7 linked regions of the Homo sapiens genome follow. The protein of the gene in region 1 interacts with the protein of each later gene in a biochemical or structural test. Each region holds a gene or a part of one and is shown in the gene's direction. Other genes may lie near its edges. The genes, in order: SMAD1, GSK3B, CDK7, HIPK2, TAPT1, FOXG1 and BMPR1A.

The links.
Region 2: of the proteins of SMAD1 (region 1) and GSK3B, one has a biochemical effect on the other in vitro, tested with the Homo sapiens proteins (one study listed by BioGRID).
Region 3: of the proteins of SMAD1 (region 1) and CDK7, one has a biochemical effect on the other in vitro, tested with the Homo sapiens proteins (one study listed by BioGRID).
Region 4: the proteins of SMAD1 (region 1) and HIPK2 form a complex in vitro, tested with the Homo sapiens proteins (one study listed by BioGRID).
Region 5: the proteins of SMAD1 (region 1) and TAPT1 form a complex in vitro, tested with the Homo sapiens proteins (one study listed by BioGRID).
Region 6: the proteins of SMAD1 (region 1) and FOXG1 form a complex in vitro, tested with the Homo sapiens proteins (one study listed by BioGRID).
Region 7: of the proteins of SMAD1 (region 1) and BMPR1A, one has a biochemical effect on the other in vitro, tested with the Homo sapiens proteins (one study listed by BioGRID).

Annotation. Positions count from the first base shown.
Region 1 is NC_000004.12:145,512,448-145,516,384, forward strand, and holds part of SMAD1 (mothers against decapentaplegic homolog 1), read left to right. Parts: exon of another isoform or gene 1-1,035; intron 1,036-1,990; 5' UTR 1,991-2,166; coding exon 2,167-2,566; intron 2,567-3,937. UniProt on the Homo sapiens protein: Transcriptional modulator that plays a role in various cellular processes, including embryonic development, cell differentiation, and tissue homeostasis.
Region 2 is NC_000003.12:120,003,598-120,007,534, reverse strand, and holds part of GSK3B (glycogen synthase kinase-3 beta), read left to right. Parts: intron 1-3,937. UniProt on the Homo sapiens protein: Constitutively active protein kinase that acts as a negative regulator in the hormonal control of glucose homeostasis, Wnt signaling and regulation of transcription factors and microtubules, by phosphorylating and inactivating glycogen synthase (GYS1 or GYS2), EIF2B, CTNNB1/beta-catenin, APC, AXIN1, DPYSL2/CRMP2, JUN, NFATC1/NFATC, MAPT/TAU and MACF1.
Region 3 is NC_000005.10:69,254,983-69,258,919, forward strand, and holds part of CDK7 (cyclin-dependent kinase 7), read left to right. Parts: intron 1-477; coding exon 478-546; intron 547-3,060; coding exon 3,061-3,171; intron 3,172-3,937. UniProt on the Homo sapiens protein: Serine/threonine kinase involved in cell cycle control and in RNA polymerase II-mediated RNA transcription. Cyclin-dependent kinases (CDKs) are activated by the binding to a cyclin and mediate the progression through the cell cycle.
Region 4 is NC_000007.14:139,575,245-139,579,181, reverse strand, and holds part of HIPK2 (homeodomain-interacting protein kinase 2), read left to right. Parts: intron 1-3,893; coding exon 3,894-3,937.
Region 5 is NC_000004.12:16,160,313-16,164,249, reverse strand, and holds the end of TAPT1 (transmembrane anterior posterior transformation protein 1 homolog), read left to right. Parts: intron 1-712; coding exon 713-942; 3' UTR 943-3,745; downstream 3,746-3,937. UniProt on the Homo sapiens protein: Plays a role in primary cilia formation. May act as a downstream effector of HOXC8 possibly by transducing or transmitting extracellular information required for axial skeletal patterning during development. May be involved in cartilage and bone development.
Region 6 is NC_000014.9:28,765,289-28,769,915, forward strand, and holds the start of FOXG1 (forkhead box protein G1), read left to right. Parts: upstream 1-1,498; 5' UTR 1,499-1,991; coding exon 1,992-3,461; 3' UTR 3,462-4,627. UniProt on the Homo sapiens protein: Transcription repression factor which plays an important role in the establishment of the regional subdivision of the developing brain and in the development of the telencephalon.
Region 7 is NC_000010.11:86,885,362-86,889,298, forward strand, and holds part of BMPR1A (bone morphogenetic protein receptor type-1A isoform 3 precursor), read left to right. Parts: intron 1-3,937. UniProt on the Homo sapiens protein: On ligand binding, forms a receptor complex consisting of two type II and two type I transmembrane serine/threonine kinases.

The DNA of each region.
Region 1 (3,937 bases):
TTAGTATGAGCATTTTTTACCAGTCTTCCTGCTCACTAATCTTTTATTCTACTGTATTTAACCTGTTGTTAAGTTCATCCTATTTAAAGTCTCATTAGTTATATTTTTCAGTTCTAGAATTTTTATTTCATTCTTCTTTATGGATTCCAGTTCTCTGTTAAAATCTTCAACCTTGTCTTCTCTTTCCTTGACATAGTAAATAGTAATCATTAATACTTTAAAGTCTGTTTCTGGTAACTCCATTACCTGGGTCACCCGTTAGGTCTGTTTCTATTCTGTTTTGTTTTGATCATTTGGTCCTGTTTCTTGGTATGCTTGATAACTTTTGGTTCATTGCATACACTGTGAATTTAAAATTGTAGTGGCTAAGGTTGATGTTGTCTTCCTCTACAGAGAATTTGTTTTTCTTCTGGCAAGCTGTTAGAGAGCAATACCCATCACCTAGACCAAGGCTAGGATTAAGATGATTCTAGATTGGTTGTAAAGACTGATCCGTTTCATTTTTGCCCTTAGACTGGGGCATATTCCTCCAGGAGCTTCCATTGAAAGCCTAGACTATTTACCAGGGTTTCTCCTCAGCAGGCCCTCAACTCCATTTGTTGCTGTGTTGTTATTTTGGGGTTCCTCAGCGCTATGAGGCTACTAGAAGCTCTGCTTAGTTTTTAGCCTCTTAGTTACCTCTTTCTGCTCGGCTCCTAGACCTTTTGCTGCTCATAGCATAGCTATTGGCAAATCCCTGGAAAGAGTGGTGACGAATATTCAGCTCACTTCATTGCATTTCCCCTCTCTCCAGGATCTTGGCCCCCTCAAGTCCTGAGTGCCTTGGTTCCTCTTTGATGCCTTTAAAAAGCTGGGCTTTTGTTTGTTTGTTTTCTGGCTTGTTTGTTTGGAAGGAGGTTGGTCTGATACGTGCTACTCCAGTTTAGCCAGGGTTTGTACAAAGTTAACCTCCTTAACCTTTTTCACATTTTATGTTTTCATGTGCTAAAGAGTAAACAGTTTAAATGAGGCAACTTGGCTAAAGAATTTGGTACAGTATGTGTCCATGTGCTTTATTCCTTTTATGTCAATAAATAGCAACATTTTTAAAGCAGGAGATGTATTTCCTATCCTATTTGTCCTGTAGCCCATAGACACAGGCTTGTTCACTGAAGAAATACCCTAAAATATTACTACATTTATATAAGAGGAATTTTCTTTTAGCCTAAGAAATATTTGTAGAACAAACCAAAAAAACAGAGATATTAGACTATTTTTTTCTCCCTGTTGCTTTCAGTTTTTGTTGATTGAGGTGTTTTGAAATATATTTTTAGAGGTTATAAATGAATCTAAATCTAAAATATTACAATATCTTTTGAGAACTTGGGCTTTTTAACTTTGTTGCTTTTATCCCAGAGCTTTTGCTAACAGTGGCTTACTTTTTAAACTGCTTCTCAGTTTACTCATCTGTAAAGTGGCAGCAATTGTATTACCTAACTCAAAGGATTGTGAAAAGCATTAAATGCTATATATTAGTCTGCTTTGGTTGCCATAATAAAATATCATAGACTGGGTGGCTTAAATAACAGAAATAGATTTTCTCTTTGTTCTGGAGTCTGGAAAGTCCAAGATCAAGGTTCTGGACAATACAGGCTCTGGTGAGGGCTCTCTTCCTGGCTTGCAGATGATCACCTTCTTGCAGTACCCTCAGTGTGTGTGCATAGAGGCTGGAGGAGGGAGATAGCAATCTTAAGACCACCAGTCCTATCAGGTTAGGGCCCCACCCTGATGACCTTACTTAACTTTAATTACTTTCTTAGAGGCTCCATCTCCAAATATAGTCATACTGAGAGTTAGGGCTTCCGCATATGAATTTTAGGGGTCACAATTCAGTCCACAGCATACTGTATTACATAAAAGCACTTAAAATAGTACCTAGCACATGGTGATTACTTAATAAATGTGGTTGTATGGTAAAGATGATTCTAACCATTCTTTTTTTGTTTTGTAGGTGCTGACTGGGTTACTTTTTTAAACACTAGGAATGGTAATTTCTACTCTTCTGGACTTCAAACTAAGAAGTTAAAGAGACTTCTCTGTAAATAAACAAATCTCTTCTGCTGTCCTTTTGCATTTGGAGACAGCTTTATTTCACCATATCCAAGGAGTATAACTAGTGCTGTCATTATGAATGTGACAAGTTTATTTTCCTTTACAAGTCCAGCTGTGAAGAGACTTCTTGGGTGGAAACAGGGCGATGAAGAAGAAAAATGGGCAGAGAAAGCTGTTGATGCTTTGGTGAAAAAACTGAAGAAAAAGAAAGGTGCCATGGAGGAACTGGAAAAGGCCTTGAGCTGCCCAGGGCAACCGAGTAACTGTGTCACCATTCCCCGCTCTCTGGATGGCAGGCTGCAAGTCTCCCACCGGAAGGGACTGCCTCATGTCATTTACTGCCGTGTGTGGCGCTGGCCCGATCTTCAGAGCCACCATGAACTAAAACCACTGGAATGCTGTGAGTTTCCTTTTGGTTCCAAGCAGAAGGAGGTCTGCATCAATCCCTACCACTATAAGAGAGTAGAAAGCCCTGGTAAGTGAGTTATTTTATGTTGATGTGCTTTGTGTGCCCAGTACCAGATTTGTGTTGTTTAGAACATGAAAATAATCCCTTTGCTTGTTTTTAGTTGTAATTTAAAAATATTTGGGGAAACTGTGTGTGTGTGTGTGTGTGTGTGTGTGTGTGTGTGTGTGTGTCTGTGTGAATGCAAGAGAGAAAGCCCCTGAGTGTTTCATACATTTTAACAGCTTAGTCATCTCTAGTTAACATTATGTCTTGGGAGCAGGCTATGACAATTGTCATTGCAGTACTAATACCTCTAATTTTTAATAAATTGTTTTCTTTCTAAATTTATTTTTTATGTCTCACATGGTTCTCTGCATTTCTCTAGATAAAATTAGCTATGAATTGTATTCTAAGGGAAGAAAATTAGGAAAGAAATGCATTATTGCTGTCTATATGCTTAAGGGAAGTACATCATGAGGGTAGTTGCCAGTGACTTAAACCATTCTGAACTTAAGAACAGCACTTTTTATCATCTCTGGCGGAATTTTGCTGTGGCATATTTCCTATGGTGAATATGAAGGAATTATATCCTTCTATGGAATCATTTGATGCTATTACTTTATAAAATATACCCAGTTTTTACATGTATAGTCTTTTGGGAGGGTATGGTAAAGGATATATTTTAAAATTTATACGGTTTTGCCCTCAAGTTAGAATCTACATTCTAGAGAGTTGGATCATTGGAAAGTGATTAGATATTCAAGCACTTAAATGTCTCATTGTCGATTGGGACCAATTTTGTTGATGGATTGGCTGTTAATAGTTCCTGGGTTACTAAGGCTGTATATTAGAATCACATGGCTCTCCTCCCAGAAATCCTGATCCTGGGATAGCCTGGTAATCTTTGTTTCTAACAAGTACTTCAGGTGTTACTGATGTAGCTATTGGATTGGTGTTTAGGAATTACTAAACTAGATCATGTAATAACATGGTTTTCAAATAAAAGGCATTCTGTATTTTTGTGGAATATTTAAGACATATTTTAAAAAAAGATTTTAAAGACCAGTAGTATAACAAACATCTCTGTATCCCCTACTCATTTTAAGAAATAAAAGATTACGTGTAAACTGGAACCCCTGTTTTTGCTCCTCTGATTCTGCTCCCTTTGGTAACCACTGTTCTGAATCTGACGCTTATCATTCTCATGCATGTTTTTATACTGTTATTACATATGTATGAGTCCATGACAATATGTAATATTTTATATATTTAAAAATGTTACATAATATTGGAGTTTCTTTGTACAACTTATGTTCATCCAACATTACGTTTTTGTGATTTCTAGATTATATACTTTAGGATTACCTTGTTAAGTCCTATGAAAAACACTTTGGGAAT
Region 2 (3,937 bases), on another chromosome or scaffold:
ATTTGCCAGTATTTCATTGAGGATTTTCGCATCAGTGTTCATCAGGGATATTGGTCTAAATTTCTTTTTTTTTGTTGTTGTGTCTCTGCCAGATATCATTTGGTATCAGGATGATGCTAGCCTCATAAAATGAGTTAGGGAGGATTCCCCTTTTTTCTATTGATTGGAACAGTTTCAGAAGGAATGATACCAGCTCCTCTTTGTACCTCTGGTAGAATTCGGCTGTGAATTTGTCTGGTCCTGGACTTTTTTTGGTTGGTAGGCTATTAATTATTGCCTAAATTTCAGAACCTGTTATTGATCTATTCAGAGATTCGACTTCCTGGTTTAGTCTTGGGAGGGTGTATGTGTCCAGGAATTTATCCATTTCTTGTAGATTTTCTAGTTTATTTGCGTAGAGGTGTTTATAGTATTCTCTGATAGTAGTTTGTATTTCTGTGGGATCAGTGGTGATCCCCTTTATCATTTTTTATTGCATCTATTTGATTCTTCTCTCGTTTCTTCTTTATTAGTGTTGCTAATGGTCTATTTTGTTGATCTTTCAAAAAATCAGCTCCTGGATTCATTTATTTTTTTTTTTGAAGGTTTTTTTTCTGTCTCTATCTCTTTCACTTCTGCTCTGATCTTAGTTATTTCTTGTCTTCTGCGAGGTTTTGAATTTGTTTGCTCTTGCTTGTCTAGTTCTTTTAATTGTGATGTTAGGATGTTGATTTAGATCTCTCCTGCTTTCTCTTGTGGGCATTTAGTGCTCTAAGTTTCCCTCTAAACACTGCTTTAAATGTGTTCCAGAGATTCTGGTATGTTGTGTCTTTGTTCTCATTAGTTTCAAATAACTTATTTCTTTCTGTCTTAATTTCGTTATTTACCAAGTAGTCATTCAGGAGCAGGTTGTTCAGTTTCCATGCAGTTGTGTGGTTTTGAATGAGATTCTTAATGCTGAGTTCTAATTTGATTGCACTGTGGTCTGAGAGACAGTTTGTTGTGATTTCTGTTCTTTTACATTTGCTGAGGAGTGCTTTACTTCCAATTATGTGGTCAATTTTAGAATAAGTGGGATGTGGTGCTGAGAAGAATGTATATTCTGTTTATTTGGGGTGCAGAGTTCTGTAGGTGTCTATTAGGTCCGCTTGGTCCAAAGCTGAGTTCAAGTCCTGAGTATCCTTGTTAATTTTCTGTCTCCTTGATCTGTCTAATATTGACAGTGGGGTGTTAAAGTCTCCCATTATTATTGTGTGGGAGTCTCAGTCTCTTTGTAGGTCTCCAAGGACTTGCTTTATGAATCTGGGTGCTCTTGTATTGGGTGCATATATTTTAGGATAGTTAGCTCTTCTTGTTGAATTGATCACTTTACCATTATGTAATGGCCCTCTTTGTCTCTTTTGATCTTCGTTGGTTTAAAGTCTATTTTATCAGAGACCAGGATTTTTTTTTGCTTTCCATTTGCTTGGTAGATCTTTCTCCATCCCTTTATTTTGAGCCTATGTGTGTCTTTGCACGTGAGATGGGTCTCCTGAATACAGCACATTGATGGGTCTTGAGTCTTTATCCAGTTTGCCAGCCTGTGTCTTTTAATTGGGGAATTTAGCCCATTTACATTTAAGGTTAATATTGTTATATGTGAATTTGATCCTGTCATTATGATGCTAGCTGGTTATTTTGCCCATTAATTGATGCAATTTCTTCTTAGCATCGATGGTCTTTATAATTTGGCATGTTTTTGCAATGGCTGCTACCGGTTGTTGCTATCCATGTTTAGTGCTTCCTTCAGGAGCTCTTGTAAGGCAGGCCTGGTGGTGACAAAATCTCTCAGCATTTGCTTGTCCGTAAAGGATTTTATTTCTCCTTCACTTATGAAGCTTAGTTTGGCGGGATATGAAATTCTGGGTTGAAAATTCTTTTCTTTAAGAATGTTGAATATTTTCCCCCTACTCTCTTCTGGCTTGTAGAGTTTCTGCCGAGAGATCTGCTGTTAGTCTGATGGCCTTCCCTTTGTGGGTAACCCAACCTTTCTCTGGCTGCCCTTAACATTTTTTCCTTCATTTAAACCTTGGTGAATCTGACAATTATGTGTCTTGGGGTTGCTCTTCTTGAGGAGTATCTTTGTGGTGGTCTCTGTATTTCCTGAATTTGAATGTTGGCCTGCCTTGCTATGTTGGGGAAGTTCTCCTGGTGAATATCCTTAAGAGTGGTTTCTAACTTGATTCCATTCTCCCCATCACTTTCAGGTACACCATTCAAACGTAGATTTGGTCTTTTCACATAATGCCGTATTTCTTGAAGGCTTTGTTCATTTCTTTTCACTCTTTTTTTTCTAATCTTGTCTTCTCGCTTTATTTCATTAATTTGATCTTCAGTCACTGATATCCTTTCTTCTGCTTGATTGAATCAGCTACTGAAGCTTGTGTATGCTTCACCATGTTCTCATACTCTGGTTTTCAGCTTCATCAGGTCATTTAAGCTCTTCTCTACACTGTTTATTCTAGTTAGCCATTCGTCTAACCTTTTGTCAAGGTTTTTAGCTTCCTTGCAATGGGTTAGAACATACTTCTTTAACTTGGAGAAGTTTGTTATTACTGACCTTCTGAAGCCTACTTCTGTCATCTTGTCAAACTCATTCTGCATCCAGTTTTGTTCCCTTGCTGGCGAGTAGTTGTGTTTCTTTGGAGGAGAAGAGGCGTTATGGTTTTTGGAATTTTCAACCTTTCTGCTGTGGTTTCTCCCCATCTTTGTGGTTTTATCTATCTTTGGTCTTTGATGTTGGTGGCCTACGTATGGGGTTTTGGTGTGGATGTCCTTTGTGTTGATGTTGATGCTGTTCCTTTCTGTTTGTTAGTTTTCCTTCTAACAGTCAGGTACCTTAGCTGCAGGTCTATTGGAGTTTGCTAGAGGTCCACTCCAGACCCTGTTTGCCTGGGTATCACCAGAGGAGGCTGCAGAACAGCAGATATTGCTGCCTGATCCTTCCTCTGGATGCTTCGTCCCAGAGGGGCACCCACCTGTATGAGGTGTCTGTTGGCCATTACTGGGAGATATCTCCCAGTCAGGCTACACAGGGGTCAGGGAACCACTTGGATAACAGTCTGTCCCTTATCGGGAGCTGAAACGCCATGCTGGGAGAACCATTGCTGTCTTCAGAGCTGTCAGGCAGGGACGTTTAAGTCTGCAGAAGCTGTCTGCTGCCTTTTGTTCAGATATGCCCTGCCCCCAGAGGTGGAATCTAGAGAGGCAGTAGGCCTTGCTCAGCTGTGGTGGTCTCTGCCGAGTTTGAGCTTCCCTGCTGCTTTGTTTACACTGTGAGCATAGAACTGCCTACTCAAGCCTCAGCAATGGCAAACGCCCCTCCCCCCACCAAGCTCCCACATCTTAGGTTGATCTCAGACTGCTGTGCTGGCAGCGAACAAGGCTGTGTGGGCGTGGGACCCGCCGAGTCAGGCATGGGAGGGGATCTTCTGGTCTGCCTGTTGCGAAGAGCATTGGGAAAGTGCAGTATTTGGGCAGGAGTGTATCGCTCCTCCAGGTACAGCCACTCATGCCTTCCCTTGGGTAGGAAAGGGAAATCCCCCAACCCTTTGCACTTCCCAGGTGAGGCAATGCCCCACCCTGCTTCGGCTCGCCCTCCATGGGCTGCACCTGCTGTCCAACCAGTCCCAGTGAGATGAACCAGGTACCTAAGTTGGAAATGCAGAAATCACCTGTGTTCTGCAAAGATCTTCCTGGGAGTTGTAGACCAGAACTGTTCCTATTCAGCCATCTTGGAAGCGACCATGAATGCCATCTTACAAATGAAAGTGTTAATTGGTCACAGACATTCACTGGCTTTTGTGTATATTAATACTTCTGTGAATTTAAATGGATATAAATATTGGTTATAATATTCCACTAGTGCATTTGGATATTCATTTATCTAGCAATTTATATTTCACAGAGAAAAATACTC
Region 3 (3,937 bases), on another chromosome or scaffold:
AGTGTGTTCACTCACAACTCCCCAGAGTCCCTGCCTCATAGGGAAGTTGTGAGACTAGCCAATTGAATAGATGTAAAGTATCTGGAATAGTGCCTACCATAGAAAATGTATTCATTCATTCAATGATAGCTGCTGTTATTTAGAGGATTTCTTAAGAATCACATTTGGGACTTTTCTTTTGAATTGGAGACTGGAATGAGGTTTTCATTGGTTAATTTCTTAATTCTAACTCCAAATATTTGGGGAAAGAGGTTGGGTATTTTTTTAAGTAAAATTTAATATTTTTATGCTTCAAAATACTAATTCCTTTAGTACTGTCCAAAAAAGGACAAATGTCAAATTTAATCAAATGATTTAAGCTTTATAGGGAATTACCAACAGTTTAAATGCTTTTTAAATTTTTAAAAATTGCCTCAGTTGCTATGATACTGTCAGGTATTAAATAGTGAATCACATTTTAATTTTTTAACTTTGCAGCTCCTTGATGCTTTTGGACATAAATCTAATATTAGCCTTGTCTTTGATTTTATGGAAACTGATCTAGAGGTAAGATTAAGATTCCTGGAGAAATTCCTTTGTCCCAGTTTATCAAACAAGAACCTAAATATTTGTTTTCTACCCAAGAAGATACTGGTAGTAAAAGAAAAAAAGCTTAATTTTGTTGAAATTTGGATGTACTCTGAGGCAAAAGGATCTCTAGTTATTTTCTTCTAATCATTTAGTGATATCCCCAGTGTTACATACAAAGATTTGGATTTCATTGGCATTTCTGCCTTCTAAGTTCCCATAGCTAGTTGACGTCATTTTTGGAGAAATGAGCATTAGACCTATAAGATTTGTTTGCTTTTTTTTTTTTTTGTGATGGAGTCTCAGTCTGTTCACCCAGCCTGGAGTGCAATGGCGTGATCTCGGCTCTCTGCAGCCATCACCTCCTGGGTTCCAGTGATTCTCTCACTTCAGCCTCCCAAGTAGCTGGGATTACAGGTGCCACCACGCCCGGCTAAATTTTATATTTTAAGTAGAGACGGGGTGTCACCATGTTGGCCAGGCTGGTCTTGAACTCCTGACCTCAAGTGATCTGCCTGCCTCAGCCTCCCAAAGTGCTAGGATTACAGGCATGAGTCACCATGCCTAGCAACCTATAAGAATTTAAAATTTATTTCTGGCCAGTGCAGTGACTCACGCCTGTAATCTCAGCACTTTGAGAGGCCAAGGCAAGAGGATTGCTTAAGCCCAGGAGTTCAAGACCAGCCTGGACCCCATAGATCCTGTCTCAGCTTTACAAATTATATTAAAAAATAAAGAAACTTATTTCCATATAATCAGAGTAATGTCATTCTTTTGAAAGCCAAGTTTTTTTGTTTGTTTTTGTTTTTGTTTTGTTTTTTTGAGACAGAGTCTTGCTTTGTTACCCGTGCTGGAGTACAGTGGCGCGATCTCAACTCACTGCAACCTCTGCCTCCCAGGTTCAAGCAATTCTTGTGCCTCAGCCTCCTGAGTAGCTGGGATTACAAGCGCCCATCACCATGCCCAGCTAAAATAGAGATGGGGTTTCACTATGTTGGACGGGATGGTTTCAAACTCTTGACCTCTGGCGATCTACCTGCCTGAGCCTCCCAAAGTGCTGGGATTATAAGCGTGAGCCACCATGCCCGGCCTCTTTCTTTTAGATAAATACCTAGCAGTGGTATTGCTAGATCACAAGATTATTGATTAGTGGTATCGATCACAATATTAGTGATGCTGTTATAGATCACAATACTAATGGTATTGATCCTGGAAGGACCTATCATAATAGGCTATGGACTCACCACTAGGCTATGGATTGCACCATTGCACTCCATCCTGGGTGACAGAGTGAGATTCCCATCTCGAAAAAAGAAAAAAAAAAGAAACAAAAACGTATGCCAGAATTCAGTTGGTACAGATGTTTGGCTTTATTAATAATTATCAAAACTGGAACAATCCAAACATCCCTCATTCTAACTGTACAAACAAACTGAAATACTACTCAGGAATAGAAACACACTATTGATAAATGCAGCAACATAGATGAATCTGAAATGCATTATACTAAGTGAAAGAAGCCAGGCTAAAAAGACTATGTATTGAACCATTTCATTTATATGATATTCTGGAAAAGGCAAAATGAAAGGAACCAGAAACCAGATCAGCGGTTATGGGGGCTTTGGGGTAAAGGAAAGGAGTAAGTACAGAGGGGCCTCAGGGAATTTGGGGAGGTTACGGAACTATGCTTTGATTATAGTGGTGGTTACATGACTGGATGCATTTGTCAAAACTCATGGAACTATACACTAAAAAGGGTATGCTTTACCTTAAATCTGATTTTAAAAAAAGAAAAGGGGAACTTTTAGTTCCTAACTGATAAATCTAGAATAAACTGACATTAGGCACAGCTCATAAATAATGCCATCAAAACTCAGTCTTACGCTTTAACTAAGCTCCATTTTCTTCTCTGTTGCATTCTTCATGTGTACAGTTCTCAATATGGTGTTCCAGATGCTTCTAGGTATATGTTTGTAGAGTTTAATAATACCTGAGGAACGAAAGTGCTTTCTTTTCTTTGATTCTAGCACAAGTACTTGGCCTGGTTGATTGACTTGTCTTGTATCCCTGAACCAATCACTTGGCCAGGAGACTGCAGTGTGATAATGGGGATGCCTGGGTCATGTGCCTACCTCTGGAGGCCTTAGGTTGACTCAGTCCTACCTTAACCATGTGGACTAAGCTGAGAAGAGATGGCTTCCCAAAGGAACACTAACTGCTATTGTCAGAAGATGCAAGCAGAAACAACAGGTGTTTGCTACTTTCATGCGAAAGCAGTAGAGGACAAAGCACTGCTTTCTTTTCAAACCAGAAATGCTCTCCCTACCCATCTAACTCTGGAGATTTTGACAGGGCTTCCTGAGGAAACTTAGATAACCTCTTTTGAGAGTCTCCTGTATTGATACTTACATTTTAAGTCTGTAAATTGTTTTATGTGGTAGAGTTTATTTGAAATAATAAAGGGTACCTGTATATTGTATACTTGCTTTACAGGTTATAATAAAGGATAATAGTCTTGTGCTGACACCATCACACATCAAAGCCTACATGTTGATGACTCTTCAAGGATTAGAATATTTACATCAACATTGGATCCTACATAGGGTAAGGTTTTTAATATTGCTTCTTTATACTAGTCAAGTTTTATATAGCCAATTTGGTACATAGTGGTCTGAATATGTAAATTGTTTAACAATGAATTTATAGCTGACTGTTTTATCCCATCTTTTTGCTATATATTATTCCCTTCACTTGTTCCAGCAGTTGGTGCTGTAAGGACTCCATATTACTTTGTGAAATTTAGAACTGGAAGAGATCCAGTCCCTCATTTTTTTTTTTTTTTTTTTTTGAGATGGAATCTTGCTCTGTCACCCAGGCTGGAGTGCAGTGGCGCGATCTCTTGCTCACTGCAAGCTCCGTCTCCTGGTTTCATGCCATTCTCCTGCCTCAGCCTCCCGAGTAGCTGGGACCACAGGTGCCCGCCACCACGCCCAGCTAATTTTTTGTATTTTTTTAGTAGAGACGGGGTTTCACCGTGTTAGCCAGAATGGTCTCGATCTCCTGGCCTCGTGATCTGCCCATCTTGGCCTCCCAAAGTGCTGGGATTACAGGCGTGAGCCATTGCGCCCGGCCTCCTCATTTTTTAATAGATGAAGAGCTAAGTTGCTAAGTGACCTGACCATGGTTATATTTTTTTTCAAGGTTGGCTGCTGATAATGGACAGAGTATTAAAACATAGGTTTTGACCCAGGCATGGTGGCTCACTTTTGTGTTGCCAGCACTTTGGGAGGCTGAGGCAAGTAGATATCTCGAGCCCAGGAGTTCTAGACCAGCCTGGGCAATATAGTGAAAACTCATCTCTACAAAAAAT
Region 4 (3,937 bases), on another chromosome or scaffold:
CAAATGTGGACTGCTTTAGAGTTGGGGCTCTGTGGAACAATAGCACCGCATTTTGGCGAATGACTGGATTCCCTGGCCAAAGCTCTTTCCCATACTCAGTTATTTCATCTTTCCTCTCCTAGGGCTTCCTTACGCTTTTCAGTGTCACCAGGCAGTAATCCTAAAGTCCAGCAAGGTTTCCAAAAAATATAAATCACAGAAATATAGCTGTCCGGCACGGTGGCTCACGCCTATAATCCCAGCACTTTGGGAGGCCAAGGGTGGGGCAGATCACCTGAGATCAGGAGTTCGAGACCAGCCTGGCCAACATGGCAAAACCCCATCTCTACTAAAAAATACAAAAAATAGCCAGGTTTGGTGGCACACACCTGTAATCCCAGCTACTCGGAAGGCTGAGGCTGGAGGATCACTTGAACCTGGGAGGCAGAGGTTGCAGTGAGTCGAGATTGCACCACTGCACTCCAACCTGAGCGACAGAGCAAGACTCCACCTCAAAATAAAAAAAGGAATTTAGCTGTCCTCCATAGAAAGTCAAGGTGATAAAAATATTTCAAGCACATTCCAGAAACTTAATGAAGAAAAATAACTGAGTACAAGATACAACACATGAAGTGCTCAAATCAACAAAGGATGGCGGAAAGGAGGTTACTCATTACCTTTCTCTCTTAAAATGCGCTCCCTTTTTCCTGGGCAAAGTCTTCCTCAGTCTGGTTCTTAGACTAAGAATCAGTACCATGGCTGGGCACAGTGGCTCACGCCTGTAATCCCAACACTTTGGGAGGCTGAGGCAGGCAAATCACTTGAGGTCAGGAGTTCACGACCAGCCTGGCTAACATGGTCAAACTCTGTCTCTACCAAAAATACAAAAATTAGCAGCTGGGCGCGGTGGCTCATGCCTATAATCCCAGCAGTTTGGGAGGCCAAGGCAGGTGGATCACAAGGTCAGGAATTCGAGACCAGCCTGGCCAATATGGTGAAACCCCGTCTCTACTAAAAATACAAAAATTAGCTGGGTGTGGCAGTGGGCGCCTGTAGTCCCAGCTACTCGGGAGGCTGAGGCAGGAGAATCACTTGAACCCGGGAGGCGGAGGCTGCAGTGAGCTGAGATCACGCCACCGTACTCCAGCCTGGGCGACAGAGCGAGACTCTGTCTCAAAAAAAAAATTAGCTGGGCGTGGTGGTGCATGCCTGTAATCCCAGCTACTTGGGAGGTTGAGGCACGAGAATCACTTAAACCTGGGAGGCAGAGGTTGCAGTGAGCCAAGATCACACCACTGCGCTCCAGCCTGGGAGACAGAGCAAGACTCCATCTCAAAAAAAAAAATCAGTATTGTTTCTGTGCACATCTCACCCCAGCAGGACTGGTTGCCCAAGGAGGCAGGACAGCCCCCAGCCCCAGCGCCAGGCTCTTGTTCATTCCCTGGTCTGCCCTGCCCTTCTTGGTGGGGGACCATCTGCCTGTCTTTCCACCTGGAAGATGTTTTCTTCTCCATTAACTCTACTGTTCTTTAGCGTTTAAGGAACAGAAGCAATGCTTGTTGTAACTATGGTTTCTAACTATACAACACAAACCACACAGTCTTCAGGCTGCTTTGTCGTAGCCTTCACTTACTAAACCCCTCTTTTTCTGCTTCCGTTGTCATTGAAGTTAGAGAAAGGTATCTGGAATTTTCTGCCTCCCACACTTTCCTAGGCCATTATGCAGTTTGCTCCTAAAGAAGCCCAGTGTTGGCCCAGCGCGGTGGCTCACGCCTGTAATCCCAGCACTTTGGGAGGCCAAGGGCAGGTGGATCACCTGAGGTCAGGAGTTTGAGACCAGCCTGGCCAACATGGTGAAACCCTGTCTCTACTAAAAATACAAAAAAGTTAGCCAGGCGTGGTGCCGGGTGCCTGTAATCCCAGCTACTTGGGAGGCTGAGGCAGGAGAATCACTTGAACCTGAGAGGCAGAGGTTGCAGTGAGCCGAGATCGCACCATTGCACTCCAGCCTGGGCAACAAGAGTGAAACTCCATCTCAAAAAAAAAAAAAAAAAAAAAAAAAGGAAGCCCAGTATCTTCTCACTAGTCTGGGTCTGTTTGTTGCTTTTGCCATTACAAAAGTGCTTGCATTTAATGAATGGCTATGACTGGTGCATCTGGGTGCATTTGATTGGAAATTTCATTTAGGTGTGTATTAATACTGCACTGTGTGTTAGGCAGCCCTCTCCTGGAGGAGAGCTGAGGCACAGGGACATGGGGGGCTAGTAAAGCATCTCTTCTGCTTTTATCAAGGGGTGATGGTCCTGTCTGCAGAACTCCCCAAGCTGGGGTGGGGAGATGGCCCCCACTCGGCAGCAGAGCTCCCGCCCTCTGGGGCTCTTGCCCCTGCTGGGCTGGACACTCATGCCCTGTCCTGCCCTGTCCTGTTCCATCAGCCTTCTTGGACTTGGGCTGTCCCTGACTGTCAGCGTCTTCATCTGGTTTATCCTCTGGCCTCGCCACCTCATCTGCGTGATCTGTGATGCCTCCTCCTTATTCACGCTCTCAGCCTTCTCCCTGCCACCCCCGTCCCTGGTGGTACACAGTCACCGTCCTTAGCACAGGGCAGGAGCTCAGAAAATACTTGGATGAGTTAAAACCACTGGGCTCTGAAGAGGCTCCTGGCTCCCCTGGCTCTCTGGCTGGGTAACATGGAAGCCATCCAGCTCAGGGTTTAACCCACCTCTCTCAGAGCCCCTGGCTACTCAGAGCGTGGTCCCCCAAGCAGCAGCACTGGCACCCCCTGGGAGCTTGTCAGAAATGCAGGTGCTCGGGCCCCCCAGAGCTGCTGGCCAGAGTCTGCACTGAACAAGATGCAGGAATTACATTTGAGAACTGTTGATGGAGCCACCTGCTGACCATGAGGTCACCTCTGGAGGGTTGCAGTGTTTTTTCCACTCTTCAGCCCCCTTGGCAATAACATGGAGGCAGTTTTGTGCTTGGCCATGTTTGGCTCACAGGGCCATTCCCCGGATGATTTAGTCTCATCCTGCCTAGAGGCAGGTAACTGGACCAGGTGACTCTGAGGGTTATTTTAGCTTCTAGTAGTTTATTAGGTCCCACCACAGACACTGTCTCCTCTGATACTCATAGTCACCCATGGTGGGGACCAAGCAGGGATCCTGTCTTAGTCTATTTTGTGTTGCTGTAACAGAGTACCTGAGACTGGGTAATTTATAATCAATAGAAGTTTATTTGGCTCACGATTCTGAAGACTGGAAGTCCAAGAACAGGATGCCAGCATCTGGCAAGGACCTTTGTGCTGCATCTTCCTAGCACAGGAGGCAGAAGGACAAAAGAGCATGAGGGTGAGGGGGCCAGACTTGTTTTCATCAAAAAAGCCAATCTCTCAATAGCTAACCCACTCCCGAGATAATATTAATGCACTGATGAACTCATACACTCATGAGGGCTCTGCCCTCAGGACCTAACATCCCTTACTGGCCCCACCCTAAACACTTGCACTGGGGACTAAGTTTCTAACACAAGAACTTTGGGGAACACATTCAAATTATAGCAGATCTCTCCTACCCATTTTCCAGATGCTGAAAGTAACACCTCCCAGAGGAACGGCACTGGGCCTGGCCTTAGGCCACCAGCCCACCTTGCCTCTCCTGATTCTTTTCCGCTTTCCCTTGCTTCATTCCCTCATGCAGCCCCGACCACCCTCCCAGCCGAGGGAGTGAGCCAGAGCCCCACTGCATCCAGAGTCAAGGCAAAGTCCTAGTGGGTCCGGGGGAGATGAGGCTGATTTGTTACTGCCCGGCCTCAGGCACATGTTTCTTCCTGGAAGACCACTGTTCTCTGGTGGGGTAGCATCTTCTGGGCAGCTGGGACCCTGCCACTGATCTGACCTCTTTCTCCTCCCGCCACAGTCAACACCAGTCACCACTCGTCCTCCTACAAGTCCAAGTCCTCC
Region 5 (3,937 bases), about 130 Mb from region 1:
ATCATGGCAGTAGTGTGACCAGGTGTATGCACATGTCAGAACTCATCAGATTATACATTTTAAATGTGTACAGCTGATGGTGTGTCTTTTTTGCCTCAAAGAAGCTGTTCTTACATGGATTGAATGTATGATTCAGATGAGTCTCTCCAGGCCCCAGCCCAGCTGTCCCCAAAGCCAGGCTCCAGGATCTCTGTGGCCTAAAATGAACATTGGGGGTTTTGTTTATTTGTTTGTTTGTTTTTAACCTCTGGTTTGGACTTCCCAGAGATGATGATGCTAAACCATCTGTAGCTGAAGTGACTACAGATGACAGGTGGAATGTAGTAAAGTCTTCTTGGCCCACTCCCTGATGTTCTGTATTGGAGCAAGTGTTAATGTTTCAGGACTGCCAACAGTCATGTTAGGTCTTGATTATATAGAGAGGAGCCGTAATGTAGGAGTTGTGATCTTTCTGCAGTTGGGTGATGGCATTGTTTGTGTGATACGAGCAATGTAATGTACCCTTCCATAAAGTTGAACAAACAGATGATTAGCCTCTAAGTTTTATTATAAATGATGGCTGCTTATACAACATGCTATTTGGTTATCATTTGCTTTATCGGAAAGCATGGATAATGGGCACTTTTTTCAGCACCACTGTATTGGTAAGTTTGTATTTATTAATAATTGGAGAAAAGTCTTTCTCTAATTTAATGGATCTATTTTATCACAGGCCTTTCCACAGAAGAAAACCTGTCTGCCTCCATCACCAAACAACCTATTCATCAAAAGGAAAATATCATACCATTACTTGTGACAAGCAATTCTGATCAGTTTTTGACAACTCCAGATGGTGACGAGAAGGACATAACGCAGGACAATTCTGAATTAAAACACAGATCCTCAAAGAAAGATTTGTTAGAGATAGACAGGTTCACAATTTGTGGAAACCGAATTGACTGAATCTGTGGCTTCATGCGCTGAAGAAGCTGGGTCCTGGGGCAACAAGTGCTGTGTTGCCAGGACAAATAGATGCTAAACATGGCACTTAAATATTTATTTAAAAACTTAAATTATTATTGGCAAGCAAATCTTAGTATCTTTCTTCCAGTAATATGGCCTGGCTGAGGGTCAGACCACAGGACAGGAGCGACCTCCGGCCTTGACTGTCTGGGAAGCTTGATGGATTATAAAACTTCCTCCTGCCTGGCCAAGCAGCAGCATCATTTCCAGGACCCAACAAAGGCAACATCAAAATCTGTTTTGCTTTGTCAGTCTGGGCTTCCAGAATGTTGAATTTGCCTCAAGGCCTCTTCAGTATAAGGAAATACCTGGAAAACTGTGAAACTTTTACCACGACGTAATCTTTCCAGTCTCATACTATTTTCACAAACAGTTTTCAAACGTTACTTCATCTGCCAAAGCATTAAAAAAATTAAACATAAGTCAAGATAAATGTTCTTACCACCAGAATAACCCTTAAAGATGTATCTTAATTAATCAGAATAAAAGGCTACCTTAAATAAGACATGATGAATAGTAGCATTTTGTAGGGTTAAAAAAAAATGCTAAACTAGTTTATTTATTAAAAAAATAATTAATGAAGGCTATGCATTACTGGGAAAAATCCTTCATAATTTTTCAGTTTACTCTTTAAAGCAAAATGTGAGCTGTATGTCATTTAATTGGTGGATAAAACAAATTTCCTTACAAAAGGGCACTTTTTACACCAAGGAAGCAGAGCAGTGTTAACTTTAAGGTATACTTAACTGATTTTGCTTTAAAACTAATTACTTCATAAATTATTACAGCTAAAAGGATTCGATGTTGAACAGGCTGAAAAATTGTCAATGTACAAAATTCAAAACTGTCAACTTTAACTGTAAAGTAAATGCTCCAAGTGTGTTAGACAGCATCATCTTGCTTGGGCTTACCAAATGCATTAGTCTTTGTGTTTGGGTCGACAGCGAGTGTGCCTGTGCTGGGGCAGGGTGTGTGTTCTGTGGGAGGGTGTCTGTGGGGATGTGACTATCAGGGTGGGCCTGTGCTGGGGATGGGGCAGGCCTGGGTCTGGAGAGGATTTTGTGTGAAAGTAAATGGGGTGTTTGAGGCGTATGGGTGGCTGTTGGTGTGGGGAGGCATCTGTGTATGGCTGTTGGGAACAGCAACCAAAAGGTGCTTTTTGGTTTTATTTGAGATGAAGATTGTGTTTCCGCTTAATTACTAGTTTGTGGTCTATATCATAGAAGTTATTTCCCACCCCATTTTATCTTGACAACCGTGTTTGCATTTCTGTAAAACTTCTACAACTTCTGGTGTCAGAACTGTCCAGAAGATGGTACTGTTAACTGTTATTTCCTTTGATGTTTTGATTTTGAAGTTTAGCTCTCATGCAAATGTTTCAGGCGTACATACATAGGCAGAAAGCAATTTTTAGGTGATTTGTCTGTTTCTTGGATGAAATATAAAGCAAGCTTTAATGTTCTGACTTGTTCATTTGAAATACAAAAAAGTAAGTGAATTTTAATGTTTTGCATTAACTAAAGAAATCTGAAGATTAATGTTGAGGAAATTGTATGGACATGCCTTTGTGAAACCAGGAAGTATTTTAAGTTAAAAATGAAAAAGGTTTTAATTGCTTTGTGTGTGTTTTAATGGAGCCCCATTTTAGAATTATTTTTTCCATCTCCCTTTACCAACAAAAGGAACAATGCCACCGTGAATGGAATAGTTTGGGGAAAGCTTTGCCAAACACAACCCTGATTTCAGAGCAGGAACATGGTTTGGATAGATCTTCAGTTCCGCTTGAATTATTCTGTTACTGCGCTGTCATTTTCAGAAGATTTCCATTCCTTTGCAGATGCTGTTGGGAGTTCGGGATTATGTTCATTTCTTCTGTTTTAATGGCATTCAGTACTAATTTTATAAGTGCATCTTGTGTGAATCTCAATAAATTCAGTTTTGTAATCTTTTTTAAAAAGGTCACTGAATTTATTTTAATATTTACTATTGTATTTGGTAGAGTGAATTTCCCACTGTATAATAAGTATTTATTTGTAATTCACAAGTGATAGAGCTATCTTAATTTGAATTATTGCTTTGGTCTTAATGGTGGCAAAATGTTTAATTTTGTCTTTGGAAAAAATAGGCTCGGCCTTGATTATAGACCATTTAATATTTCTCAGCAAATGAAGGTATTTGCATTTTACAAGTGTTTTGAATGTCACACAAAATATTTTTCACATCTGGGAGTCAAGTTCAAGACAGTGCTTTGGTTTTAAAAAAATCTAATGAAGGCACAGGATAGGCCAGACCCTTATTAGGTTTTCCTTTAGAATAAGTGTAAAGACCAAGTGTCACTGATACGCTTGTCCAGATTTTCTTGTGGACTTTGGCCAGTATTTAGAGTTTATATTCATGTTACATAAAGTGAAAGAAACTTGCTATAATTAGGCCATCAAAATATATCCTGCCACTCCTGGTAACTCAGCAGAGGAGGAGATAAATTTACAAAATAATGTAATATCTCTACATTGTTACATGTTTTCAACTATTTTTTATCAACAAAGATTTGTTAATCACTTCCTATGTGTCAGAAACTGTTCTAAGTGGTGGGATCAGCAATGAGCAAGATAAGTCCCTGTTCGTCTGTGGAAGACTGATAGGAACAAGTCGATGAAATAATGTCTGCTGGTCACAGAGTGTCCACTGACCAAATGATCTCTCAGGCTTATTTCAGCTCTAAAATATAGTTCTTTAAAACGTTTGTGTAAGTCTGATTTTTTTCCTATTGGATTAGCTTGAAATAAGATAATTGTATAGCAATTTTACAGTGCTTCTATAAAATAGAAATAAGAAAAGACTTTCTCCCTGAAGACTGCTAGTTGTCCAGCAGAATCCATTCTCCTGTTCCATTGTGTAGAGTTGTAGCTGGGCATGTGCTGCTTGCTGGGGACTG
Region 6 (4,627 bases), on another chromosome or scaffold:
TCCCCACTAAATTCCAATCCCTGGGAAATGCTGGGCCTTAGCCCTGCCCCTGGCCACGGGATCCTTTTAAAGCCCCCGATTCGCAATTTCCCCATTCACTTCAACCTCCAACCGAACCTTCCCAGTTCCAAAGCCCAAGAAGCTGGGACTGTGAGATCCACGTTCCCAAGGCTCCCCGGTGCTTTCCAGCAGCACTCAGGGTTGGCAAGAGCTGGCTTCAGTATACTGTTATTTCAGGAATGAGGCCCGCACAAAATAAAAGCATTTGAGAAACGGAAAGGAAAAAAAAGGAGTGAAAATAGGAAGGCTTAAAAAAAAAACCGGAAAGAAATAGACGCCCACCCTTATTTTCCCTCCAATGTCAACAAGCAAAACGAAAATATTTCCAGGGTGATCGCTCGCAGCTACCCGCTTCCAATTCGGATTAGAAGCTGAGGCTGGAGCGGCGAGGAGAAAACGACATCGAGTCACCCCGCGCGTGAGCGACGCTCTGGAGCAGGAGAGAAGGAAAAGGAAGAGACACACGTATATAGCATGTGTTACCTGATTTATTTCGAGATTGTTTGGTACTGTTTTCTCTCTGGGCACCTCTCATTTCGGAAGGCCATCAGAGGCGCCCACTACTGAGCGGCCCCGGCCGCCGCAGCAGCACCCGGAGCCCCAGTCCCGGTTTCCCCGCGGTGCCGGAGCCCGGAGCTCGCCGCCGCCCAGGCCTCAGGAATCGAGTAAGTAACCCCTGTTTGGCCCCGCGCTCCTCTGCCCACTTCCTCCTCCTCATCTCATCGCTCCCAAAGCTCTCCCACACCCTCCTCCCCCGAAGTAAAGGACACCCCCGCACACACGCCAGCGGTGGGCCTTATCTCCCCCCTTATCCAAAGCTGCGCTAGACTATTACCTACAAAGGGCACAATTTTCCTGCTGGCTCAGAAATGCCAGACACTGGCCTGCAAGGCCGACTCGGAAAAGTAGTGCCTCGCCTCTACCTCCTCCATTTCCTGCCCTCTCGCATCCTCTCCCTGCACTCCCACTCTTCCCACTACCACCACCACCCCCGCTTTCAAAAATAAAATTGGATACAAACTTTAATCACTAAGGACAAATATTGACGCTTAAACGAAAATGACCCAGTACAATGAGGAGGAAGCCGGAAATGTGAGCTATTGGCCCTAGGAGGGGAATTTCGGTGGAGCGGAGCCGGCGGGGTGGAGGGGGTGGCGGGGGCGCAGGGAAGGGCTGCGGCACCGCGTGCTCCCGCCGGCGTATCCCTACGCGGCTCCGCGCGGCCTCGGGGTCCGAGGCCCGCGGAGAGGGGGAGGCGAGCGCCCGAGGGGGCGGCAGCCGGCGGGCGGGGCGGGGGTGGGTGGGCCCGGCCCCTCCGATTGGTCGACGGCGAGAGAGACGCTCCCGCACGCCGCCAGCTCTGATTGGCCCAGCGGTAGGAAAGGTTAAACCAAAAATTTTTTTACAGCCCTAGTGTGCGCCTGTAGCTCGGAAAATTAATTGTGGCTATAGCCGCCTCGATCGCTGTCTCCCCAGCCTCGCCGCGGCCGCTCCGGGACGCGCCCGCCCGCCGCCCGGCTCTCCCCCCCTTTGGGCTGCTGCTGCTGCTGCTGTGACTGCTGCTGCGAGAGGAGGAGGAGGAGGAGGAAGCAGCGGGGGGGGGAGCGGGGGGTGGGGGGGGAGACCAAGAAGTACAGTTGGGAGCGAGGGAGCTTCACCCCCGGGGCGGTGGTTGTTTCTTTTTTCTTTCTTTCTTTTTTCTTTTCCTTTTTTTTTTTTTTTCTAATTCCTGAGGGGTGGTTGCTGCTTTTGCTACATGACTTGCCAGCGCCCGAGCCTGCGGTCCAACTGCGCTGCTGCCGGAGCGCTCAGTGCCGCCGCTGCCGCCCGCGCCCCCCGCGCCCCGTTCGGCACCCACCGGTCGCCGCCGCCCGCCGCGCCGCTGTCCCGCTCCCGCGCCGCCGCCGCCGTTTCCCCCCGACGACTGGGTGATGCTGGACATGGGAGATAGGAAAGAGGTGAAAATGATCCCCAAGTCCTCGTTCAGCATCAACAGCCTGGTGCCCGAGGCGGTCCAGAACGACAACCACCACGCGAGCCACGGCCACCACAACAGCCACCACCCCCAGCACCACCACCACCACCACCACCATCACCACCACCCGCCGCCGCCCGCCCCGCAACCGCCGCCGCCGCCGCAGCAGCAGCAGCCGCCGCCGCCGCCGCCCCCGGCACCGCAGCCCCCCCAGACGCGGGGCGCCCCGGCCGCCGACGACGACAAGGGCCCCCAGCAGCTGCTGCTCCCGCCGCCGCCACCGCCACCACCGGCCGCCGCCCTGGACGGGGCTAAAGCGGACGGGCTGGGCGGCAAGGGCGAGCCGGGCGGCGGGCCGGGGGAGCTGGCGCCCGTCGGGCCGGACGAGAAGGAGAAGGGCGCCGGCGCCGGGGGGGAGGAGAAGAAGGGGGCGGGCGAGGGCGGCAAGGACGGGGAGGGGGGCAAGGAGGGCGAGAAGAAGAACGGCAAGTACGAGAAGCCGCCGTTCAGCTACAACGCGCTCATCATGATGGCCATCCGGCAGAGCCCCGAGAAGCGGCTCACGCTCAACGGCATCTACGAGTTCATCATGAAGAACTTCCCTTACTACCGCGAGAACAAGCAGGGCTGGCAGAACTCCATCCGCCACAATCTGTCCCTCAACAAGTGCTTCGTGAAGGTGCCGCGCCACTACGACGACCCGGGCAAGGGCAACTACTGGATGCTGGACCCGTCGAGCGACGACGTGTTCATCGGCGGCACCACGGGCAAGCTGCGGCGCCGCTCCACCACCTCGCGGGCCAAGCTGGCCTTCAAGCGCGGTGCGCGCCTCACCTCCACCGGCCTCACCTTCATGGACCGCGCCGGCTCCCTCTACTGGCCCATGTCGCCCTTCCTGTCCCTGCACCACCCCCGCGCCAGCAGCACTTTGAGTTACAACGGCACCACGTCGGCCTACCCCAGCCACCCCATGCCCTACAGCTCCGTGTTGACTCAGAACTCGCTGGGCAACAACCACTCCTTCTCCACCGCCAACGGCCTGAGCGTGGACCGGCTGGTCAACGGGGAGATCCCGTACGCCACGCACCACCTCACGGCCGCCGCGCTAGCCGCCTCGGTGCCCTGCGGCCTGTCGGTGCCCTGCTCTGGGACCTACTCCCTCAACCCCTGCTCCGTCAACCTGCTCGCGGGCCAGACCAGTTACTTTTTCCCCCACGTCCCGCACCCGTCAATGACTTCGCAGAGCAGCACGTCCATGAGCGCCAGGGCCGCGTCCTCCTCCACGTCGCCGCAGGCCCCCTCGACCCTGCCCTGTGAGTCTTTAAGACCCTCTTTGCCAAGTTTTACGACGGGACTGTCTGGGGGACTGTCTGATTATTTCACACATCAAAATCAGGGGTCTTCTTCCAACCCTTTAATACATTAACATCCCTGGGACCAGACTGTAAGTGAACGTTTTACACACATTTGCATTGTAAATGATAATTAAAAAAATAAGTCCAGGTATTTTTTATTAAGCCCCCCCCTCCCATTTCTGTACGTTTGTTCAGTCTCTAGGGTTGTTTATTATTCTAACAAGGTGTGGAGTGTCAGCGAGGTGCAATGTGGGGAGAATACATTGTAGAATATAAGGTTTGGAAGTCAAATTATAGTAGAATGTGTATCTAAATAGTGACTGCTTTGCCATTTCATTCAAACCTGACAAGTCTATCTCTAAGAGCCGCCAGATTTCCATGTGTGCAGTATTATAAGTTATCATGGAACTATATGGTGGACGCAGACCTTGAGAACAACCTAAATTATGGGGAGAATTTTAAAATGTTAAACTGTAATTTGTATTTAAAAAGCATTCGTAGTAAAGGTGCCCAAGAAATTATTTTGGCCATTTATTGTTTTGTCCTTTTCTTTAAAGAACTGTTTTTTTTTCTTTTGTTTACTTTTAGACCAAAGATTGGGTTCTAGAAAATGCACTTGGTATACTAAGTATTAAAACAAACAAAAAGGAAAGTTGTTTCAGTTGGCAACACTGCCCATTCAATTGAATCAGAAGGGGACAAAATTAACGATTGCCTTCAGTTTGTGTTGTGTATATTTTGATGTATGTGGTCACTAACAGGTCACTTTTATTTTTTCTAAATGTAGTGAAATGTTAATACCTATTGTACTTATAGGTAAACCTTGCAAATATGTAACCTGTGTTGCGCAAATGCCGCATAAATTTGAGTGATTGTTAATGTTGTCTTAAAATTTCTTGATTGTGATACTGTGGTCATATGCCCGTGTTTGTCACTTACAAAAATGTTTACTATGAACACACAGAAATAAAAAATAGGCTAAATTCATATATATCTTGATACTTTTGTCTCTTTTATTAAGTAGAGCTAATTTTTTAAAGACCAATCAACTTATAGGGAATTCAAAGGCTTTTTCAGCCAAACTAAAATTTAAACTGCTCCTTTAATTTGAACTGACTCTAAAAATGAAAATAGTATTTTTCCCTTTGTGAACAAATTTTACAAGGAGCAGCCTATTTAATAAACACTAGCTTTAAACAAAGTATAGGCTTTTCAGCTGATACCTGTAAGTTTCTGT
Region 7 (3,937 bases), on another chromosome or scaffold:
GTCGGCAGAATTGAATAGTTGTGACAGAGACCTTGGGGCCCACAAAACCAATACCTGTTTTCTATATCTCTGCTGTCTTGTGTGATAGCTACTAGCCAAATGTGGCTTTTGAGCACTTGAGTTGTGACTAGTGTGGGTGAGAAACTGATTTTTAATTTTACTTCATTTTAATTCGTCTACATTTTAAGTCACATGTGGCTAGTGGCTACCATATGGGACAGCACAGTTGTAGACATGCCACCTTTTCCCTAGTTCTTGCTTCCTTGTACTTGACTTTCCTTCTGCTGATGTCTTCCTGGTTTCTATTTAATTAATGATGCAGACTGTTGTTGCAGAATTCATTAGGCTACCATTGCTGATTATCTCATATGTATAGTGCATCAGTAGCCCATTGGTCTCACCAACCGTTTGCCATCTGAGTTCTGTTGTAGACATTCTATCTTAAGGTTGCGGCAGAGGGCATTTATTTGCTGTAGAAAAAGGAAGCCAATAAATTATTGGGAAAATATGAAAAATTACTTAGCCAGGAATAAAAATCTAGTAAAATCATTGATGCCAAAAATTGCTGTTGATGACAAGGACCTGTAAATGTGCCTGTGTATGGTCATGTGTCTCTTGTAACTGTTTGTCTCTTTGTATGTATATGTTTTCATTTTTTCCTGAGATGTTATACTTAAACATGTAAGCTATTAAATATTTTGTGTGTGTTTGTTTTGAAATATAACCTATACCCCCAGTCCACCCCAGGGCTCGTAGTTTATTCTTTGTAAATACACGGGACTTGTGGGTGGCGAGAGATTGACATGTTCAGAACTGACAGAAGGCCATGTGCCAAGTAAAGTGATGATGGTGAGGCCTGCAGGACCCAGATCCTGTTGGGCCCTGGGAGCACACAGTGGAGGTTGGATTTTATTCTGAGTGCATTGTGGAGCCATTGATTGGTTTTATATAGGAGTGACAGATTTGTGTTTATAAAATGTCTCTGGCTGCTCTGTGGAAAATGGATTGCAGGGACCAAGAGCAGAAGCAGAGGGAACAGTTGGAGACTTCTTACCTTAGTAGAGGCATGATGTGATGGGCCTTGGTGACAACAGCGGAGTTGGAGAAAAATGAAAACAATTGACATACATTTTGGAGGTTGAGCCAAAAGACTTTGGTAAGACCAGGTTTGAGGCAAATCAAGAGTTCATTTAAGACAAGTCAGTCAGGAGATGTCTAAGCAGGTCATGGCTAGAGGGGGTACATCCAGGAACCATCAACAGAGTGGGCGCTGTCCCCTAGGGAGAGCACAGAGAGGCTCTTTCCTGTTACTTTTCTTTGTATTCAATATCTGCTTGGTGAAATCTTGCAAGTTTTTAAGATGTAGCTTAGATTTCATTACTTTTGACACCTAAGATCAGTTTGAGTTTGACACCTAGGATGAGCCTTTTCCTTTGTTTACATGTAAACACCTCCGTATTTTGTCACTTTTTTTTTTTTTTTTTTTTGAGATGGATTTTCGCTCTTGTCGCCCAGGCTGAAGTGCAATGGCTTGATCTCTGTTCACTGCAACCTCCACCTCCCAGGTCAAGTGATTGTCCTGCCTCAGCCACCTGAATACTGGGATTACAGGCGCCTTGCCACCACGCCCAGCTAATTTTTTAATATTTTTAGTAGAGACGGGGTTTCACCATGTTGACCAGGCTGGTCTTGAACTCCTGACCTCAGGTGATGTGCCCACTTTGGCCTCCCAAAGTGCTGGGATTACAGGCGTGAGCCACCGCGCCTGGCCTTTGTATTTTGTCACTTTTCACATTGTATTTATTTGCTTTTGTGCTTATTCCCCCTCTGCTTTCCACCAAGTTTCTCAAGGCCACATATGTGGTTTTGATGCCACATCTTTGCGTTTCTAGCATTTAATACCTTGCCTGCACATAATAGACCCCTACTAAGTATTCTGTTGAATATTTGGCAATAACATAAGCTCCAGATACAACTACTGTAATTGAGTTTTTTGTCTCATGAATTCAAATAGTATTCTAGGAAGTTTCATATAACTTTGAGTTTTTTCATGTATCAGTGATCTTTTAGTGTTCTGATCTTTGTTATTAGTAACATCTTCATTTGTATACTATTTTACATGTAGTTAAGCACTTTAGTAAATATTCATTTGATCTACCTATAACCTCTTGATTTGAATTAGGCAGGAATTATTATCCCCATTTTCTATAGATAGCTGAGGTTCAGAGAGTAACTTATCTGTGCCCGTAACTGCGACTTGAACCCTTCACTTCTTGCTGTTATCTCAAGTGATATTTCTGCCACACTAAACTGCTTTTTCTGTGTCACTAGATTTTTGAAAAATCAGTTGCTGTGATATATTATATACTGTTTGTTTTCCAGAGCTGAATTGATACGTGTCTTCTGTTAATGTAATAGGATTTTAAAGCTGGTCAGGTTCCCTCACCTGTCCTCTAGTCCTGTAGCCTTATAGAGTAAATGAAGCCTGGAAAGGTGACATGGCTTGCCCAAGACCATCCAGCTAGGTAAAGCGGGGTAGGCCCATGGCAAAACAGAATCCCAGTCTCCTCATTTCCTGCTCAGTGGATTTCTTCCCTTCCTGTACCTCCTGCTTCCCCCACCCCATCTTTTACAGTTGATGTTTCTAACATAAAGGAGGTCTTTCCGCTTTGTAGCAATCAGATCCAACGGAAGCCTTGACATTATATTACGGAATTTATTTCTGAAAGGAGAGTGGTGTGGGGGGCGCGGGGATGAGTAATATATGTATGTACACAAACTTCCAGCTTTTTTTTTTTTTTTTTAAGTGTTTTCTCTCCTGGCCGGGCACGGTGGCTCATGCCTGTAATCCCAGCACTTTGGGAGACTGAGGCAAGTGGATCACTTGAGGTCAGGAGTTTGAGACCAGCCTGGCCAACATGGTGAAACCCTGTCTCTACCAACAAAATACAAAAAAATTAGCTAGGCGTTGTGTGGGGTGCCTGTAATCCCAGCTACTCGGGAGTCTGAGGCAGGAGAATTGCTTGAACCTGGGAGGCGGAGGTTGCAGTGAGTCGAGATTGCACCAGTGCACTCCAGCTTGGGTGACAGAGTGAGACTCTATCTCAAATAAAAATGTTCTCTATACTCATTCAGTAGCAAATTCTTTTACTAAATATTCGGTATAAGAAAGTGAAGGTTATTGGCCAGGCATAGTGGCTCACGGCTATATTCCCAGCACTTCGGGAGGCTGAGGCGGGAGGATCGCTTGAGCCCAGGAGTTCAAGACCAACCTGAGCAGTATAGGGAGACCTTGTCCCTACAAAGAATTTAAAAATTAGCCGGGCATGGTGGCATGTGCCCTTGGTCCCAGCTACTCCAGAGGCTGAGGTGGGAGGATCACTTGAGCCTGGGAGGTTGAGGCTGCAGTGAGCTCTGATCACATCACTGTACTCCAGCCTGGGCAATAGCGTGAGACCATGTCTCAAAAAAAAAAAAAAAAAAAGTGAAAATTATTGAAACTGAAGGCATGTAATCATCAAAACACTATTTAGCAGCACTTTTTCTGTTACCTGTGTGTGCATATGTGATATTTTTTGTCTTTTCAGTAGTTTATCTCATCAGTATGGTAAATGTAAAATCAAGTCTGTGTTGTGTCTTGAACCACTTATTTAACATTCATAATGAAATACATATACACTTGTCTGTTTGGTTCCACCTTTCATTCCCTTGAGAGTAACCCACAAAGAATGGCCTAGCTGAGTCAGAGAGAGGAAGTAATTACTAGAACAGTTTTTTTAGTTCCGTTCTGCTTCCAGCCTGAAAGATTTAGTACCAAATATGACAGTATCTGTCACTGCAGGCTGCTAGACTCTAGTGTAAGAACATAGTTCTATTTCTGTGAGCTAACTGCTGCCCTTCTATAACCTTCAGTTTCTGCCAGCATCGTCTGCATTCA